Homo sapiens: one gene and its partner. The protein of the gene in region 1 interacts with the protein of each later gene in a pairwise test. Each region holds a gene or a part of one and is shown on either strand. Other genes may lie near its edges.

Region 1 (3,500 bases):
GGAATAGAGGATTGGTGATCCTGGCTGAGGGTGTGGGGTGGGGGGTAGTTGTGGAACAGAGCTGGAAGGTACATGGATCCCAAGGTCCTAAGGACCTTGGTGGAGGTTTAGAGGGCTAGGAGCTGTTACAGGTATACATTCACCACGTAGGAGTAGGAATGGGGTTGATTAGGCTTCAGTAGATATTGCTGCATGTAGATAATTTGATAAGTCACAGTTATAAACTGGGGGTTGTCTGTGTTTGATATGTCATTCATTGTAAATACAAATATAGTATAAAAGTAACTTTTTTTTTAAAACAGGTTTTAACGTGGAAACTGTAGAATATAAAAATCTAAAATTCACTATTTGGGATGTAGGTGGAAAACACAAATTAAGACCATTGTGGAAACATTATTACCTCAATACTCAAGGTGAGAGTTAAAAATGACATTTAATTTTTCACATTTTTAGGATGACAGTTTTCAGTGTACTGATTTAACTAGCAAAGCTGATACTTATGATTAAGTCGTTGACTGTATACTTAAGTACCTGTGGCCAGTTTCTTAACTTGTAAAAAATGAAAGTAGAAAGATTAGGATATATACTTTTAGTTTATTCCTGATATACCATTATTACAGAATAAAAACCATACGTAGCTTAGATATGTAGTCAGTTAAGAGTACTCTTGCTTCTCTTAACAGAGAGTGTATATTACCAGTATTATATGGGTGTGACTGCTGGTAGCGTAGTGGTATAGAGTTGAATTTATGTTGTATGATTCTGCTGAATTCAGTTAAACTCAACATTTATCCCATTATAATCTCACTATAGCCCCACTCCCACATTTCTTTCACAAATAGTTATTACCTGCAGAAGAACTTACAGTAGCTTGCTTTTGACCAAACCGTATTATATCATATCTATACTCTACATAGGTTTTAGTCACATTTGGGTCTTACTCTACACTTCTGCCTCATAGACCCCAACATAATGCTTACGCTCATGCCGCTTATTCTGTATGTTATTCTGCTTTCCACCAAGATGAGAGACTGAATAATTATTTTTACTTTGGGATTTTTGATATTATTATGAGCCATAATTAATAGAAAAAATGTATTTTTTTTTTGAGACAGAATCTTGCTTTGTTGCCCAGGCAGGAGTACAGTGGCATGATTGCATTTCATGGTCACCTCTGTCTCCTGGGCTCAAGCAATCTTCCCACCTTAACTTCCCAAGTAGTTAGGACTAGGTATATGCCACCACATTCAGCTAATTTTTTTTTTTTTTTTTTTTTGAGATCGAGTCTTGCTCTGTCGCCCAGGATGGAGTGCAGTGGTGCGATCTCGGCTCACTGCAAGCTCCGCCTCCCAGGTTCACGCCATTCTCCTGCCTCAGCCTCCTGAGTAGCTGGGACTACAGGTGCCCACCACCATGCCTGGCTAATTTTTTTGTATTTTTAGTAGAGACGGGGTTTCACCATGTTAGCCAGGATGGTCTCCATCTCCTGACCTCGTGATCCGCCCGTCTTGGCCTCCCAAAGTGCTGGGATTAGAGGCACGAGCCACCGCGCCCGGCCACATTCAGCTAATTTTTAATTTTTTTTTAATAGAGATAAGGTCTCACTATATTGCCCAGGGGTCTCGAACTCCTGGGCTCAAGTGATCCTCTCACCTCAGCCTCCCAAAGTGCTGGGATTATAGGTGTGAGCCACTGTGCCCTACAAAAATGAAATTTTGAATATGAGGAATGGTTGAAAGTCTGGAGATAGTTAACTTAGACATAATACTTTGGAGAAATAAAAATGGTGATGGTTTTTATCTTTTAGTCTTTTATTCAAAGACTAAATATTAGAAAAGTAGTATTCGAAGAACAAGTAGCATCCATAGGTAGAGGATCATGAGGCATATTTTGAAATTCGTTATGTAAAAAGTTATTTGATATACAGACCAATTTGCATTTGATAGAGCAAGTGTTGTAAATCCTTTCCTAGATGGGGAAACTAAACCTGAGAAGTTATGTAAACTACTTGAAATCATACTGTTAATTATTTGTAGGTGCCCCTGCCATACTAGGCACCCTCTGTGTGAAAATAATGATGGTAGACAAACTCTAACCATAACATAATAATGATATCATTAAATATTTGGTTCATTTACTGAACTTTAGCAAGTGACTATTTTTGTTTTTTTTATTTTTTTTTGGGTAGCTGTTGTGTTTGTTGTAGATAGCAGTCATAGAGACAGAATTAGTGAAGCACACAGCGAACTTGCAAAGTTGTTAACGGAAAAAGAACTCCGAGATGCTCTGCTCCTGATTTTTGCTAACAAACAGGTAATGCATTTTTATATTGGAATATTTATTTTAGTAGTTTTGTGCATGTCAAAAGGCAACTGGAAATATTTCAGAAGACAATCAGTTCAATAGATATTTATAGTTTCTTCTGTGTATTTTGAGTACAATCTATGTGAAAATGCTGTGCTGGGTACCTGGGAGTATACAAAATAGAAATAAGGTAGTTAATGCTCACCAGAAACTCCTGTGTATGCATATGAACACATAAGAGATCTGAATACGAAGAAGACTGATAAGTAACTTAAGTAACACAGTGTTACGGGAATTAGGAAAGTAGTTCTAAATGTGGCATGTTGTAAGATTGTAAAATGTAGAATTTGAGTTGAAATTATGCATGAGGCTGAGTCAGTATGTGAAAGGAAGAACATTATAGACAGAGAAGATAATAGCATGAATGTTTTTAGTTTAGGGAACATCAAGCAGATCTATATGTCAGGTCTCAGTAGAGGATGAAGAGAATTTAGAATAACAGACAAGGCCATGCTGTAAAGGTCTGACAGTGCTAGACTGAGAAATTTAGGTTTTATTCTATGAGCAAGGAGGAGTCATCAAAATGTTGGATTAGTGGGTAATAAGATCATATCAGTGTTTCAATACTATAATTCTAGGGGTAGAATGAATCAGGGCAAAGGACTGGAGACAGGGAGATGCAGTAAATTGCTTAAATAATTCAAGTGAGCATTAACAAGAGCCTGAATTAGAGGAATAGAAAGGCGGAGGCAGATGGAAAAGACTTTGAGGCAGAACTGGTGACTGAATGGGGAGGATGAAGGACTGGGAGTAGCTGAAGATTCCTAGACCTTGAGCCTTTCTAGGAGGATGAGATGCTTTTAAGTAGAGGCAGAAGGAGAGTAGAAGTGGAGCAGAGGAGATGTCATGGGAGGGGAAGAGTAGGATGAAGAATAAAGAATTTTCCCCTTAATAAAAAAGGCAAACTATTAAGAACTGGTATATTTAAGACATGCAAATAAGTCAGTGAAATACCATTTTCTGCTCATCAGATAGTTAAAGATGAAAGTGTTTTATAATCCTCAGACTTATATACAACTGTTACTATTATTATTTTGAGACTGAGTCTTGCTCTGTCACCAGGCTGGAGTGCAGTGGCACAACCTCTGCTCACTGCAACCTCCCCCTCCTAGGTTCAAGCGATTCTTCTGCCTCAG
Region 2 (3,995 bases), about 69 Mb from region 1:
ATCCAGCCCCCTCAGTCCTCCTGGAATAGCCTGGCCCTGGCTCCGAGGAGAGAAGAGGGGCTGTTGCTGGGCCCACAGAAGAAAAGGCAACCCCAGGCATAAAGAGGCTCTCAGCAGCCCCTGCCCGAACGCTCCTGGCAGGCAAGGGCCCCATAGCACCCTGGGGCCTCGAGGGTCACCGCAGACCCGGCCTGGGAAGAAACCCGTAGAGTCCCGCAGCCGCGGAGGGAGGGGGTTCTCGCTAAGGCGTCCCGCGGACAACGCCGAGAGGCACAGCTTAGCGGGTGCGCACCGGACAGGCTCGCAACGCAGGACGGTGCCCTCATGGGAGCCAGGCTGAGCAGGTCAAGAATGGTGGTGGGGAAGCGGGGTAGGCAGACCTCGGCGGGGGCTGCCTCGGCGCTCTGCTCCTACCCAAGGGGCCCGGTTCCCTTTCTACCCACAGTTCCCTTTCTATCCGCCTCCCTCCTCAGCCCAATGAAGCAGTCGGGGCTCAGCAGTGCTTAGCACGCTCGGACTATGGTTTTAATAGACGTACATGGACAAGTCGATATAGACAGATTTATTACAGTCAGTCCAACATACACAGGGACGCTGTAAACAGGGGCGCGGGCCGGAGAGCGGGTGTGCAAAGTGGGCGCAGGGCCCTGGGGCCGCGCCCCTTGCTCTGCCGGCTCGACTCTTGCACGGCGGGCGGTGAGGAGGGGGCTGTTCGCCCAGACAGAGGGCCACCTCCTAGCCCGGGAGCAGAGCAGAGGGCCTGGGCCTGCAGCTAAGCTCAAGGCTGGGGTGTTCTGAGATGGACCTCCCCCACCTCCCGCCAGGCCCGCACTGCCCGCTGTCGCTCCGTGGCCTTAATATAGGGCTCCGGGGCGCGGGGCCAGCGAGGCTCTACCAGGCGCGCCGGGGCCGTGTGCGGCTCCACTGAGTGCCCGATCCTGGGCTGGGGGCACCGTCCCCCCAAACCCAACGCCCGCCCCAACACGGATCCGACTCGAGCTAAGGCGCTCTCGGCCGGGCCTAGCTCGGAGAGGGCAACTTGGTTTGTACGGGGTCGGGAAATCCTAGGCAAGTCCAGGCCCCGCACATCCAGTCCGCAGGCCCGGCCACTCAGTCCGGATCCAGCGCGGCGGGGACGCGGGATACGAGGTCGTCCTCCCCCGGCCGCTGGGCCTCGGCGCTCGCCTACCGCGCCGCGTGCCCTCCGCGGAGTGGGCCTCCGGGGCCCGTGGGAACACACACACCACCCGCGCCATCCCGAGAGAAATTGCAACTCATCCATTTTTTCGCGGCACTTTTCTCCGACGTCTTTTTGCTTTTTTTTTTTTTTTTTTTTTTTTGTCTTTTTGGAGGGCAGAGTGGGGTCCGGAAAAGCAAACACAAAACCAACCCGGAGTGGGAAGTGGGAGGAGGGGGCTGCGCAGGTGTGAGGTCCGCGGCGCGGTGAGCTGGGGCTTGCGAGCCGGGGCCCCGCGTGCGTCCTCCGCGCCCGCGCCCGCGCCCTTCCCCGCTCCGGCCGCCGGCCCGCGTGGTGCGGCGGGGCGGTCAGCTGTTGTACTGGCACGCGTTGAGGCCCGAGGCCGGGCCCTGCAGGCCGCCGTAGCCAAACGACGAGTGCTGTTTGGACTTGAGCCGCAGGCTGGCTAGGCTCGAGTTGCACGTGTCCCGGTAGACGCTGTAGGGCGAGGCGGGAGTGCCGTACGGGCAAGCGCCCGGCGACATGGCCGAGTTGAGCGAGGAGCCGGTGAGGTTGTTGATGTTGTTGAGGCCCGAGTTGGGCATGCCAGGCACGGCGCCTGGGCCCATGCTGGACGGCATGGTCATGGAGGAGATGGAGCTGGGTGCTGAGAACATGGACTGCGACGACAGCGGGCTCATGGAGTTGAAGAAGGTGAAGCTCTTGGTGGAGAGCGGCGCTGGCGCCAGGCTCTTGGCGGCCCAGTTGTTGTAGGAGTAGCCGGCGGCGTACACGTCCTCGTAGGGCTGCACTAGGCCGCTGAACTGCGGCACGTAGCCACCCTTGCACAGGTCCAGCTGCTGGTTACGCTCGCGCTTACGCCACTTGGCTCGCCGGTTCTTGAACCAGACCTGGGGGAGGGGACGGGAGAAGGGTCAGGGCCGCTGCGGGCCGGGAGGGACCCCACCCCCTTCCCCACCGCCTGGAGCCTTCCGTCGGCCCGCTGCCCTCCGAACGTCGTTTCTCTCCTTCGACCGATATTTCCGCTCCTGCATTCCCTCCACAATGGTTCCTTTCCTGTCCCCAGAAAATACTAATTTCTTTTTCCGATCTTTATCCTCTCCCGAAATTATATCCGTTTTCTTCTCCGAATACGGATTCTCGTTTAACAGATATTCGTTTTCTTTCTTCCTCTCTCAACCAGTTCACCTCTGCCTTCTCCCCCAAACAGGTTCGCTCTATCTACTAAATATTTCAGTCTTTTTATTCTCCCTCAAATACAAAAGGTATTTTTCCTCCCTGAGACATAGGACTTTCCGACTCCCCCAATTCTTCGATCTATTTCATCGCTCAAATAGTTTGTTATCATCTTTATCGGCAATATTTGATGTTTTCTTTTTGGCTCCAAATGTTTATTTTCGTTCAGTCCACCCCACTGTCTGAACCTCTTTCTTCTCCCTCAGTCTGTTTTCTTGTTTATCCCCCATTTTTGATCCTTTTGAATCGTCCTCAAATATTAGGCTTTTGAATCCTTTCCAAATATCTGACCTGCACTGTTCCCCTTAAACAGTTGATTCTTTTTCTCAAATACCTGATCTTTTTGCTTCCTATTTAATTTCTTTCCTGCCGCCTAAATATATGCCAAATATGTTTCTCCACAAATATTTAAATTTTTTCTATTCTTACTAGATTCTTCTAATCTTCCTGCCCTTCCTTTTCTCCCCCCAAATTTGGTAAGAACCTCCTAGTCCTCCCCCATCCTTACCTATCTGCCTACCGCATGCCCTCTGCCCACTCGGATTTTCCTCCAGTTCTGAGTGGAGTTTCCTGAGCTAGTTTGCCAGATCCCTGCTTCTCAGCTTTCCCTAGTCCCCAGCACTGACACTACCTGATTCCACCCCCACCCACCCCTACCACCATAAACCTGGGCAGGATTAGTGAGTTCAGGATTACTGAGTGCTGTGTCTTCATTCCAAGTCCCACTGGGCTGGCCAGCCTGCCTAGGGAGGGGTGAGGGCTGGGGTTATGGTAAGGAGTCTGTGGGCCAGCTGGGATTTTGGTCGACTTGGGAGGTGCTCCCAATATCTGATTAAATATTTACGCCCCCAGGGAAGAAATGATTCTCTTGCTACCCTGGCAGGAAAGCCTTGCTTTTACTGGAAACCAAACGGGTGAGAAGAGGGAGAATGCAGGCTGGTCTTGGGTCTGAGATGGCATATCCTAAAAGGGACTGGGAAGGACATTTGGCTCCCGGAGCCACCCCCCACCTCACCTGACGGGAGACCTTCCGGAAAGGGCAGAAGGCAAAGGGTCCTACTGATGGCTGGGGAGGGTGGAGAATATCTTGAGCTTTTAGAGAATCTGCTTATGAGATGGGACCACTGCTCCAGGAAGTTTTGAGAGCCCCAAACCCAGGCACCTTTCAGGCTTCTCCGAGGCAGCCAGACAGGACCTGCCTTTCCCTTTCGTTTTCGGGATAAGGCCAACAGCTCCCGAGGTCCCCAGCGGCAGGGAATCCACTGCCCAGTCTCTGGCCCAGGGTATCCTGCTAACATCTGAGTGGGTCCTGGGCCCCATAGGGCATGGGGGAGTCCCCTGGGGGCACAGGTCTTTGGGCTGGGGTTGCCTTAGTCCGAGGATCAGGTAGGATGAGGGTCAAAGGGGTTGAAGGTCCGAGGCGCCTGGAGGCCTGGCAGACGCTAGTGGGCCAGGGCCTAAGGTGGGGATCTCCGGTGGAGGGAGGGAGCAGGTCTGAATGGTGGGAGAGTGAAGTTCTGCTTGTGGGTCTAAGCTTTGGAGGGCTGCAGCAGAGGCGGCC

The links.
Region 2: the proteins of TRIM23 (region 1) and PITX1 interact in binary tests that used the Homo sapiens proteins (3 or more experiments, as listed by UniProt).

Annotation. Positions count from the first base shown.
Region 1 is NC_000005.10:65,593,334-65,596,833, reverse strand, and holds part of TRIM23 (E3 ubiquitin-protein ligase TRIM23), read left to right. Parts: intron 1-302; coding exon 303-413; intron 414-2,188; coding exon 2,189-2,313; intron 2,314-3,500.
Region 2 is NC_000005.10:135,027,234-135,031,228, forward strand, and holds the end of PITX1 (pituitary homeobox 1), read right to left. Parts: intron 2,089-3,995; coding exon 1,546-2,088; 3' UTR 501-1,545; downstream 1-500. UniProt on the Homo sapiens protein: Sequence-specific transcription factor that binds gene promoters and activates their transcription. May play a role in the development of anterior structures, and in particular, the brain and facies and in specifying the identity or structure of hindlimb.